Homo sapiens: one gene and its partners. The gene in region 3 interacts genetically with the main gene of each other region. Each region holds a gene or a part of one and is shown on either strand. Other genes may lie near its edges. The genes, in order: PBRM1, NF1 and BRIP1.

Region 1 (3,656 bases), on a different chromosome or scaffold from region 3:
TCAAGCCGACGGTAGCGATTATTTTCAACATTCTTCCTAATTATGTCAAATGTAAGGGGTGGTTTGTTAGGAAAGTTGGGATCCACAGCAGGAATTTCTGCTAAAGAATCGCTGTAGCATCTTCCCTCATCATCCTGATGACTCATGACTGACACAAAAAGATTGTGGATAAGCTCTTGAATCAGCAAAGTCACATTTGGGACATGAGAGTCCTCATCTCCCTCCAGGTCTCTGCGTGTTTCAAGCAGGACTTTGTGTAGAACAAGAGCATCTTTGTAGATCAAAGACTCCGGCTCATTGTATGTACAGGCATTATTAAACATCATGACAAAGTCCTCAACCATAGAGTCAATATCTTGGTACTTGTTGGCCATCATGTGACTTCGAATTTTTTCCATGTCCATGGGCTTTTTAATAGTCAGATAGTAGTCAGGCAACTCAGATCTAGAGGGAAGCCTCAGAAATATGGCACTGAGGCGGCGACCCCTCTTATCAGTATAGTTCTTTACAGCTTCATAGACCTCATTTAGTTTCTGCTGCATTGGAGTCATGTATTTTGATTTTTTAGGAGAAATGCCACTCTTCCTACCTAAAGAGAGATATTTAATGTTAAATGAATAAAATAAATGAACCTAAATTTGTATACAGATGGTAGCATAACCACAAGGGACGATTCCAAGTAATTTGTAAAATCTAGCAATTAGCATGTCTATAGTGAAATATAACCTGCAGACAAAAAAGTACTAAAAATTTTTTTTAACTGTTTTCAGTAATTATATTTTTGATGGGAGACTACTGTAAGGTTGAGAAAGCTGTGAATAAGAAGGAATAAAGCAAATGAGTAGCTATGTGACATTCTATCACCTCTGGTATCCTGGAGAACTGAGATTTTCATCATGGGATAAAAAGAGATAACGGATGTTAAAACGTAGGACATTAATAATTACCTTGAGGCCTTTAATCTCAATTGAAAGTATCACTATGAACTTATGATGTAATTTATCTTTAAATATAAACATACAAACAAACACACAAATTTCCTAGCTCTGTCCACTGAAAATCGTACAAACAATGACTACCTCAGTAGCAGTATAGCCCACATTAGAGTTTTAAAATACTAATTCCAAATAGTAATGTTGAGGAGCCCTCACCTTTCAGCAGAAACATGAAAAAGGTAGGGCTCCTTGGTAAATGGCTGATTCCCAGTCTGGTATATCTTCAAACACTAGACAGTAAAGAATCTATCAATGACTTCTTACCATGACTTCATGTCAATAGAATATAGGAACCGGCTGGGCGTGGTGGCTCATGCCTGTAATCCCAACACTTTGGGAGGCCAAGGTGGGTGGATCACCTGAGGTCAGGAGTTCAAGATCAACCTGGCCAACATGGCGAAACCCTGTGTCCATTAAAAATACAAAAAATTAGCCGAGTGTGGTGGTGGCGCCTGTAATCCCAGTTACTCGGGAGGCTGAGGCAGGATAATTGCTTGAACCCAGGAGGTAGAGGTTGCAGTGAGCTGAGATCAAGCCATTACACTCTAGCCTGGGCGACAGAGCGAGACTCTGTCTCAAAAAAACAAAACAAAAAGAATACAGGAACGAGCCTGAACCAGCCTGAGTATCAATAAGGACAATAACTTCAATTACAACTCAGCCATATGTTTAAGTCTGGTAGTTCTTAATAATACGTACAAACAAACAACAAAATGGGTAAATATTGAAGGATGTTAGTAAACCAATACATATTTTGAAAACTGGTAAAGGTGAAAACAAAATAAAACAAAAATCAAGCCTTTATCCTTTCAAAAAGCAAGACACACACAAAAAAAACACTGTACCACTGGCTAATCAAATATTAGATAAGGCAAAGTTTCTCTATAGCTAATAAGGAATAAAATTAAAAACTATCACAATTTTACATCCCTTTCATGAATTAATAATTAATGAAGTATGCAACAACACCTGTTAACAGAAAGCCATAAATAGATTTCACATGTACCTGATGGAAGACCATATATTACCTATGAAGTCGGTTTTTCTGCCTAAGGGAGAGAACAGGGGATCAGACCTCAATCTGATCAAGCCTCTGGCTCCAACTACCAATTTATAGGAAATACAAAGGACAGAGGAACACATGAAAGTACAACATAGTGGGCCAGGAGCTGTGGCTCATGCCTGCAATACTAGTACTATGGGAGGCCAAGGTGGGCAGATCACTTGAGCCCAGGAGTTCAAGACCAGCCTGGCAACATAGCAAAACCCTGTCTCTACTAAAAATACAAAAAAATGAGCTGGACGTGGTGGCGTGTACCTGTAGTCCCAGCTACCCGAGAGGCTAAAGTGGAAGGACTGCTTCAGAAGGGAGGTGGAGGTGGCAATGAGCCAAAAATGTGCCACTACACTCCAGCCTGGGTGACAGAGTAAGACCCTGTCTCCACAAAACAAAACAAAACACAAAACACACAAAAAACCCCACAACATATGGATGCAATCAGCAAAACCCAGACTATGGGAAACTACAGCACAAATCTAATTTCTTCAACAGATAAATGGTAAGGGGTGGAAAAAGAGAGAGCTGGAGGGGAGTTTACAGATTAAAAGAAGTATCGGGCTGGGCATGGTGGCTCACACCTTTAATCCCAGCACTTTGGGAGGCCGAGGCGGGCAGATCACGAGGTTAGGAGTTCAAGACCAGCCTGGCCAATATGGTGAAACCCTGCCTCTACTAAAAATACACAAAAATCAGCCGGGCGTGGTGGTGCACACCTGTAGTCCCAGCTACTTGGGAGGCTGAGGCAGGACAATCACTTGAACCCAGGAGGCGGAGGTTGCAGTGAGCCGAGATCGTGCCACTGACTCCAGCCTAGGCAACAGAGCGAGATTCCGTCTCAAAAAAAAAAAAAAAAAAAAAAAAGAGGTATCAATCAGTTGCAGTATGTGGACTTTATCTGGATTCTACTTTAACCAGACACTGCCTCAAGACATGATACAACATAAGGGCAGCAAACCCCTTATAAAGTATCACCACCAAGGTGAAACTTAATCTAATCGCACCTTCAAAGTTAACTTCTATTTATAAGAAATAAGGGAAATAAAGAAAAAAGTTACAGATATCACAAGGAAGCAAGCCTGTCTAACCTAGAACTTGGGACACTGTACAGGAAAGTGACCTGATTTCTTCAATGAGTTACTGGCATGTGGAAAGAAAAGGAAGGAGACTGCTCTAGATCATGGGTTTAAGAGTATAACAATCTGCTGGGTGCGGTGGCTCATGCCTGTAATCCTAGCACTTTGGGAGGCGGAGGCGGACGGATCACTTGAGGTCAGGAGATCGAGACCAGTCTGGCCAACATGGTGAAGCCCTGTCTCTATTAAAAATACAAAAAAATTAGCTAGGCATGGTGGCGTGTCCCTGTAGTTACAGCTACCCTGCAGGCTGAGGCAGAAGAATTGGGGGAACCCAGGAGACGGAGTCTGTAGTGAGCCGAGATCGTGCCACTGCACTCCAGCCTGGGCAACAGAGTGAGAATCCGTCTCAAAAAAAAAAAAAAAAAGAGTATAATAATCAAATTTATTATATAGAACTTAATGAGAGTCTGATTTGAGGAAATCAACTATAAAAATACATTTGTGAGACAATCAGAAGAACTTGAT
Region 2 (3,656 bases), about 30 Mb from region 3:
TTCAAGAATTCATCCTCTCTTACAATTGAGATTTCTCAGTTAAAAGTTTCCTGACCTCCCACTTTCTTTGCAGTTGTTCTGAACACTTACATATACCAGATACACGCCAAAAGTAGAAGAAAAAAAGTTAAAGAAAAGGCAGCATTAAATTTAGGCAAGGCTTCGAAGAGTTGATCATCTGGCAACATGGCAAACCGGATGGGTTCATTATAAAACAGGAAGTGCAGCATTACAACATGGGGGGAAAGGGCAAGGACAGGGAAGGGGTCACTAGTGAAGAGCCCATGTTAAGTTGATTTTAAAAAAGAAAGCAAGCAAGCTTCACACGATCTTCTTAATGCTATTACGTTTGAAACTGCCAGCGCTTCTTTGCTTCTGCACTTGGCTTGCGGATCCGTGGCGAGTTCGTCCACTGTTACAGTGGCCAGTGGTAGGGGAGAGTTCAACGTTCTCCTTGTCGATTCCTGGAGAAAAAGAGAACAGCCAGTTACTTCTTCTTTTCCTTCCAGGACTGAATTTCATTGCAGTCATGTGTCGCTTAACAACGGGGACACATTCTAGGAAACAATCATTAGGCGATTTTGTCTGTGCAAATATTGTGGAGTGTACTTACATGAACTTAGATAGCATAGCCTACTACACACCAAGGCTATATGGTATAGCCTGTTTCTCCCAGGCAACAAACCTGTACAGCAGGTTACCATATTGTGTACTTTATGTAGTTGTAACACAATGCTAACTATTTGTATATCTAACACAGAAAAGGTACAGTAAAAATACAGTATTATAATCTTTCGGGACCACTGTCTATATGTGTTCTGTTGTTGACTGCAATGTTGTTATGCAGCACATGACTATATTTGTGATAAGATACAACCTGGCAAATTGTTTATGCACATTTCATTTTAATAGTCAATTGCTAAAATGTTTACTAAGTTAATGTCACATGGAAAACTTCACATTTTGTTATGCAAAGTTTGCTATCATAGCAGAAAATAGCACAAGAAAAATGAAAAGACAAGTTGCAAGGAAAAGCTAGAGGCTGGCAGGCTTGAACTAAATGAAAGGCTAGCAGCCACCAGGGAAGACTAGTGCTCCTTCCTCCAAATCATACCAGAAACTTCCAGCAGAGGTCATCTTCTAGCCTTATTCACATCCTCATTCATGTTTATAAACAGAATATACTCTCCAGCAGCAGAAAGTACTGATCTTTCCAGCAAATTTGTCACTTCAAAGAAAACTCAAGATGCTTTTATTTTTTTAATCACAGTGCCTATCCCAAAGAAACTATTTACTGAGAAAATAATATATCACAAAGGTCATACTGTAGAATCTTTGCTTCTTTTCAGCTATGCCAAGTCATTTCACATTCTGCAACCTTAAACAGATGCCATTTATTTCTCTTGAGGAGGAGATTAAACCTCCAAAACCTGGGCCTAACAATGATTGATTATTTATTTAGAGACAGGGTCTTGCCCTGTTGCACAGGCTGCAGTGCAGTGGTGTGATCATAGCTCACTATAACCTTGAACTTCCAGGCTCAAGCTATCCTCTCGCCTCAGCCTCCCAAACAGCTAGGACTACAGGTGCATGCCACCATGCCCAGCTAATTTTAAAATTCTGTCTAGAGATAGAGTCTCACTATGTTGCCAAGGCTGGTCTTGAACTCCTGGTCTCAAGCAATCCTTCCATCTTGGCCTCTCAAAGTTCTGGGATTACAAGCATGAGCCACTGCACCCCACCCCAATTAATATTATAAATAATCTAAGCAGTAACTTCAGAAAAGTAACCAGAAACTAAAATAAGATTTTTATTTTTATCTATCACATTAGGAAAGATTACAAATTGGGTAACAGGACTGTGGTCACCCTTGCGGAAGTAGTGACTTAAGGGGGCATGAGGATGGCTTCTTGGGATGCTGGTAATGTTCTGTTTCTTGATGTAGATGATGGATTTTCAAGTGTGTTTACATTTTAAAAGTTCACTAAGCTGAAAACTTGCAATTTGTGAACTTTTCTGTTAAACATCAATAAAATTTACCCCCAAAATTAGACTGATTATACTTACTGCTGGCATAAATTTTGGCGGGAAAGCAAACAGCTGCAGAACGTTTTAGTAATTTGTATCAAAATGTACATTACTGATTGATATTTACTGATACAAAAAGATGACCACAATTTTTGGAGTAGGAAAAAAACACCCACACACTGTGGGGAGAGGGCGTAGGGCTGGGTAAACATCTGCCAAAATATTTTATCTCTGTCAGAAGCCAAAGGACTAAAAAATATATTTTACCTCTGTATGGCAAGATTTCAGCTAATTTGTACTTTATTCTTCTTTATATATTGAAATTTTAAATCTTAGAATAGAAAAATTTCCATTTTTGGACAAAAAGTAATATTTCAAGTCAAGAAGTATTCATTATGTTACAGAAAATGTACATAGATCTACCCAGTTAGTTATTTGTTGGCTCATGAACAGGAAATGAACTTGGGATGACCTCCCTCTAGGAGCCACTCATCTTTCATTTGGATTCAGCTCTGAATTCGACTCAAGAGTATCAGGCATCTGTAAGCACGTGGCCTGGTTTACACGTGCTCAACAGAGATTTGCTGTCTTGAAAATCTGAACTGCTGTCAAAGGAACATGGGCATTTGTCAGTGACTGTTTATGAACATGTGCACTGCATCAGGCATATGAGTGCAAGGAAAAACATCAGCGACATTTCTCCAGGAGGTGAGCATAGCTGAACCACCACTGAAAATCTGTTCTATTCAAATCTTTTTTAAAACCCTTATTAAATTTTTTAAGGCTAGTCATGTTCTAATCTAATCTAATCTAATCATATGCATAGAAAGATGACTAGAAACATTCATGGAACTTTTCTCTGGGTAACAGAATTCTGGTCTATTTAAATTCTCTTCTGTATATTTATTTGCATCCTCTCCAGAGCTATTTACAAAAGAAATAACAAAACTGAAAGAAAGCTGCTCATGATCTCTGGAATGTGCCTTGAGCTTCTTTGGGATGTATGTTTGTGTAGGCTCTTTTAATTGTCTTGCGTATCTCTACAAGATAAAATTCAACCCATATTTTTTTTTCTCATATCCTTTTCCTTCATGATGCATTATTCTGTCTCTTGCCAGAACTACTTTCTCCTTCCTTGCTTTTAAATTAACTTGCCTATGATTCTACAACTTGTACATCCATCTTCCTCTACTGAGTAAAGGCACTGAGAAGGGTAAAGATCATTATTATTCATTTTTGTTTTCCTGTAAAATCTAGTTATTTTTTCAATACATTGAAAAATTATTTTCAATTAATACTGAATGAACTGAACACTTCCATTTTAAAATGTGATAGCTAGATACCTGTAATTCAGAGCCCCAAAGCATGCAATCCCTGATCTCCAGAGAGTGGTATAATATTTTTAGTTGAAAAGATAGAACTTTTTTTTTTCCCTTTGGCATCCTCCACTTAAAATTATGAATTTGTCAGCGTATTTGACCTTCCATTTCCTCAAATTTGCATTTGGCCTACAAGTTTCAAGTCCAGTAATTCTGAGTTGTTTCTTTAATAGAAAATAAGATTCAGGCAAAACTAGGACCTTAAAAAGACAAAGGTTTGAAACAACTTGGAGCTGGCCCGCATGCAGG
Region 3 (3,656 bases):
TAGTGACTGAAGTGGGATTACAGCAGGATTTCTCTTTGCATTTATGAATATTCAAAAAGAATTATTTAGAAACATTTCTCTGAAAAAACTATGTTTTGAAGAACTTATGTGGGGGAATAAAATTATGCCTTGTGAGCTTTGAGAAGTGAACTTCAGATAATGGCATTTGTGTTTGTTTGCCTGGTTCTTTTTAGAGACATGCAATTGTTAACAGCATAAGACAAAAAGTGAATAATTTGGCATAGTCAATTGTTATTCCTGTCTTCAGATCTGACTGCACAATTCATCTCAGCTTTCTATTTCTTTAAGATCCAAATTAATAGGCATTATGTTTACTACCCCTTCTATCCTACCTCTTATTTGGTTATCTCTTAACTAGATCTCTTCCTTCTGAGACACTGTGCATATCAATGCCAGGTCAGTTTTCCAAATATTGCTTTTATTACATCCTTTTATCTGCCTAAAAATCTATTGCTTCCTTTGCTCATGAGATAAAGTTCATATTTCTTAAGCTTACACTCAAGATGCTCAATAGTCTGACCTGGATCTGCCCAATTTGAATCCTTCAAAAATTACCTCATACTCCCTTGAGGATACCTTGTTCTTTACTCTATCTTTGCTTTTGATGACACCTCTTTGGAATGCCCTGTCCACTCTTTGTCTGTCCAAATCCAAATCCTACTTATCTTTTAAACCCCAATATATTTCCTACTCTTCCATGGTTTTTTCTCAACTTTTCAGCTGTCTGTGTATTCTTACTTCCTCAAAATAACTCATTGACAATTGCTTTGTGACAGTTCCTTGTATTAGTCAGTACTCTTTCTATTGCAAGTGACACAAACCTACCCTAAAAAATGCTTAAGAAAAAATACTTGATTCTCTTTATTGTGATGGCTTTATTCTCAGGCAAGTTCTCACTCTTGCTTATGGAACAAAGATAACCATAAGCAGCTAGCTCACCTGGAGAAAAGAGCATGGCCACATATTAGTCCCTCCAAATTACTCTGGTTGGCCTACCGTGGATCACATGTCTGTTCCTGAACCTGAACCAGTCACTGTGACCACAGAAGGATGGAATACTCTATTTAACTGACAATCCTGGGCCTTACCCCCATTGTGAAAGTGGTGATGTCCTTTGATTCACAGGTTAATAGTCCTGCCAGCATCACATGGGAGTTGGAGAAGAACAATTCTCCAACTCCCATGTTGGAGAAGGATTGCAGGACAGATTAAAACAAAACATATATATTATGTTAGTATTTTAAGAGTCATTTTAATCTTGTATTGTTATTTTACTTTTAAAGGTTTTATGCTTTTAATCTTGTATTGTTATTTTACTTTTAAAGGTCTTATGCTTTTAATCTTATATTGTTATTTTATTTTTAAAGGTCTTATAATTAGTTTGTAAAATTATGTTGGAAACACTTTCATAGTGGGATTTTATACCTTTCTGTGTAGCCTGTGGTACCTTGATCCAGACTCACTGACATATTTTTGTTGCTGTCGATAGGTTTGCAAAGTATTTTAAGAGTAAAAAAATGGCAAACACAATAATGTAGAGCTGATATTTGGTTGGCCATAGTGCTTCAGAAGTTTTATTTAAGACCTAGAATCTCTGTTGCTTATGTAATTGCATTTGCAATATTGGCCTATAGTGTGAATTTTAAAATGAAATATCTTGCCTGCTGTTGTTAAATCTATTTTGCCAAATGTTTTACAAGAAAATTCTTTTATCTTATAGATGGATTTAAATCTGAAAGAACAGGTTGTCATTTTAGATGAAGCTCATAACATCGAGGACTGTGCTCGGGAATCAGCAAGTTACAGTGTAACAGAAGTTCAGCTTCGGTTTGCTCGGGATGAACTAGATAGTATGGTCAACAATAATATAAGGAAGAAAGATCATGAACCCCTACGAGCTGTGTGCTGTAGCCTCATTAAGTAAGAAGATTTGTCTATTAGTGTATTTGTGCTGCCTTTATATGAAAAATATGTTTGATTATGCCAGAGTATTTAAAGTTAGTAAACTTTGGTTAACTAGGCTTCTTGGGAAATGAATTGTTCCTTGCCAGTTAAGCTTTAAAAACAAGGCTAGTCCAACCTTTTGTCTTGTTCACAAGAATATAATGAACATAAGTGATTTTTAAAAATGAATAATTGTGAATCTTATTCCTAATTTGGCAGGATAACATAATAGCCCCGAAGGATGTGTCTAGGATATTGAACCAGAAACTAAACGTGCTTTTAATTAATATATTTTAAAATTCTGGATCATGGCTTTAATTTATTGCTTTATTCTCCAATTTAAATAGGATTCTAGTTTCATGGGTTTTAATTAATCAAGATTTCAGTACTCTAAAATAATATATTTAGTACTAGCTTTATGACAATTTACACTAATTTTTCTTTTATTAGACATTAAGTTGTTGATCTAGAATCTTGTTACCATAGAAAAAAACTTCCCAACTCTGAATCCCATTTCATTTATTGTAGCATTTTTCTGTTTCCTTCACATTTACACTTTAAAAAAATTTGAATGTTACACAGTCACATGGTTTGAAGACAAAATGTATACAAATTTGTATAGTAAAAACCTCCTTCCAGTTCCATCCCTGATCTGTTTAATGTCTGTGTTCTCCTAAACAAGTTTATCATTCAATGCATATTACTCATTTATGAACCAATATTAGATATATTTTCTTGTCCCTCACTATTTTCCAAATGATGGCATAGTATACATACATTTTTCTGCAACTTGCTTTTTTCAATTCCCAGTGTATTTTGGAGACCTTTCCATGTTAAGACCTAGAAAGCTTTCTCAGTTTAAAAAAAAAATAGATATCTAGAATTCCATTAGATAGATATGCAATAGTTTATTTAACCAGCCTCTGATTAATAGAGGAGGTTGTTTCTAGTTTTTTGCTCTTAAACTGCTATAATGAATAACTTTGAACATACATAATTTCATTTGTATGCAAATATATCTATAGGAATCTTTTTAGAAGTGGAATTGTTGGGTGAAAGCATAGACATATTTGTAATTTCAATAGATATAGCTAACATTTACACAATAGGTGGATGACAGGGGGGCTAATGTATGCTTCTACCAGCAATGTATAAGAGTATGGAAATTGTTTTCTTCTAGCCTGCTAGGTGAAAAGTGGTATCCCAATGTAGTTTTAATATTCATTTTCCTTAATATGCATGAAATTAAGCATCTTTAAAGGCCATTTATATTTCCTTTTGTGTCAACTGCCTGTTGACATCTCTGTCCTTTTTTTGTTCTTATTGTGGTTCTTTTTCTTAATGATTTATAGAACCCCATTCATATATTAGGGAATTAAAATCTTTGCCTGCAATAAGAGTTGTAAATACTTTCCACCCCATTTTGCCATTTGTGTCTTTTCTGGTGGTGTTTTGCCATGCAGATTTTTGTGGTTTTTATTTTACAGCATAACTTGTTGAAAGAGTTGTCTGTAGTTGCTAATTCTATTTTCTCACTTGACATTCTTCCCTCATCGATCTTAGCAGTGTTGCTCTCTGGACAATTCTACGCAAATTGTTTTGATCAAGATCACTAGTGATCTCTATATTGCCAAATACAGAGGTTATTGTTTCTTTTATCTCAGCCAGTCAGTGGTGTTGGGTAGTTGATG

Evidence for each region.
Region 1: changes in BRIP1 (region 3) and PBRM1 together harm fitness more than expected from each alone (negative genetic interaction), as found in Homo sapiens cells (one large-scale study listed by BioGRID).
Region 2: changes in BRIP1 (region 3) and NF1 together harm fitness more than expected from each alone (negative genetic interaction), as found in Homo sapiens cells (one large-scale study listed by BioGRID).

Annotation. Positions count from the first base shown.
Region 1 is NC_000003.12:52,609,367-52,613,022, forward strand, and holds part of PBRM1 (protein polybromo-1), read right to left. Parts: intron 1,226-3,656; exon of another isoform or gene 1,168-1,225; coding exon of another isoform or gene 1,152-1,167; intron 590-1,151; coding exon 1-589. UniProt on the Homo sapiens protein: Involved in transcriptional activation and repression of select genes by chromatin remodeling (alteration of DNA-nucleosome topology). Required for the stability of the SWI/SNF chromatin remodeling complex SWI/SNF-B (PBAF).
Region 2 is NC_000017.11:31,370,821-31,374,476, reverse strand, and holds part of NF1 (neurofibromin), read right to left. Parts: intron 465-3,656; coding exon 322-464; 3' UTR 1-321. UniProt on the Homo sapiens protein: Stimulates the GTPase activity of Ras. NF1 shows greater affinity for Ras GAP, but lower specific activity. May be a regulator of Ras activity.
Region 3 is NC_000017.11:61,797,385-61,801,040, reverse strand, and holds part of BRIP1 (Fanconi anemia group J protein), read left to right. Parts: intron 1-1,741; coding exon 1,742-1,941; intron 1,942-3,656. UniProt on the Homo sapiens protein: DNA-dependent ATPase and 5'-3' DNA helicase required for the maintenance of chromosomal stability. Acts late in the Fanconi anemia pathway, after FANCD2 ubiquitination.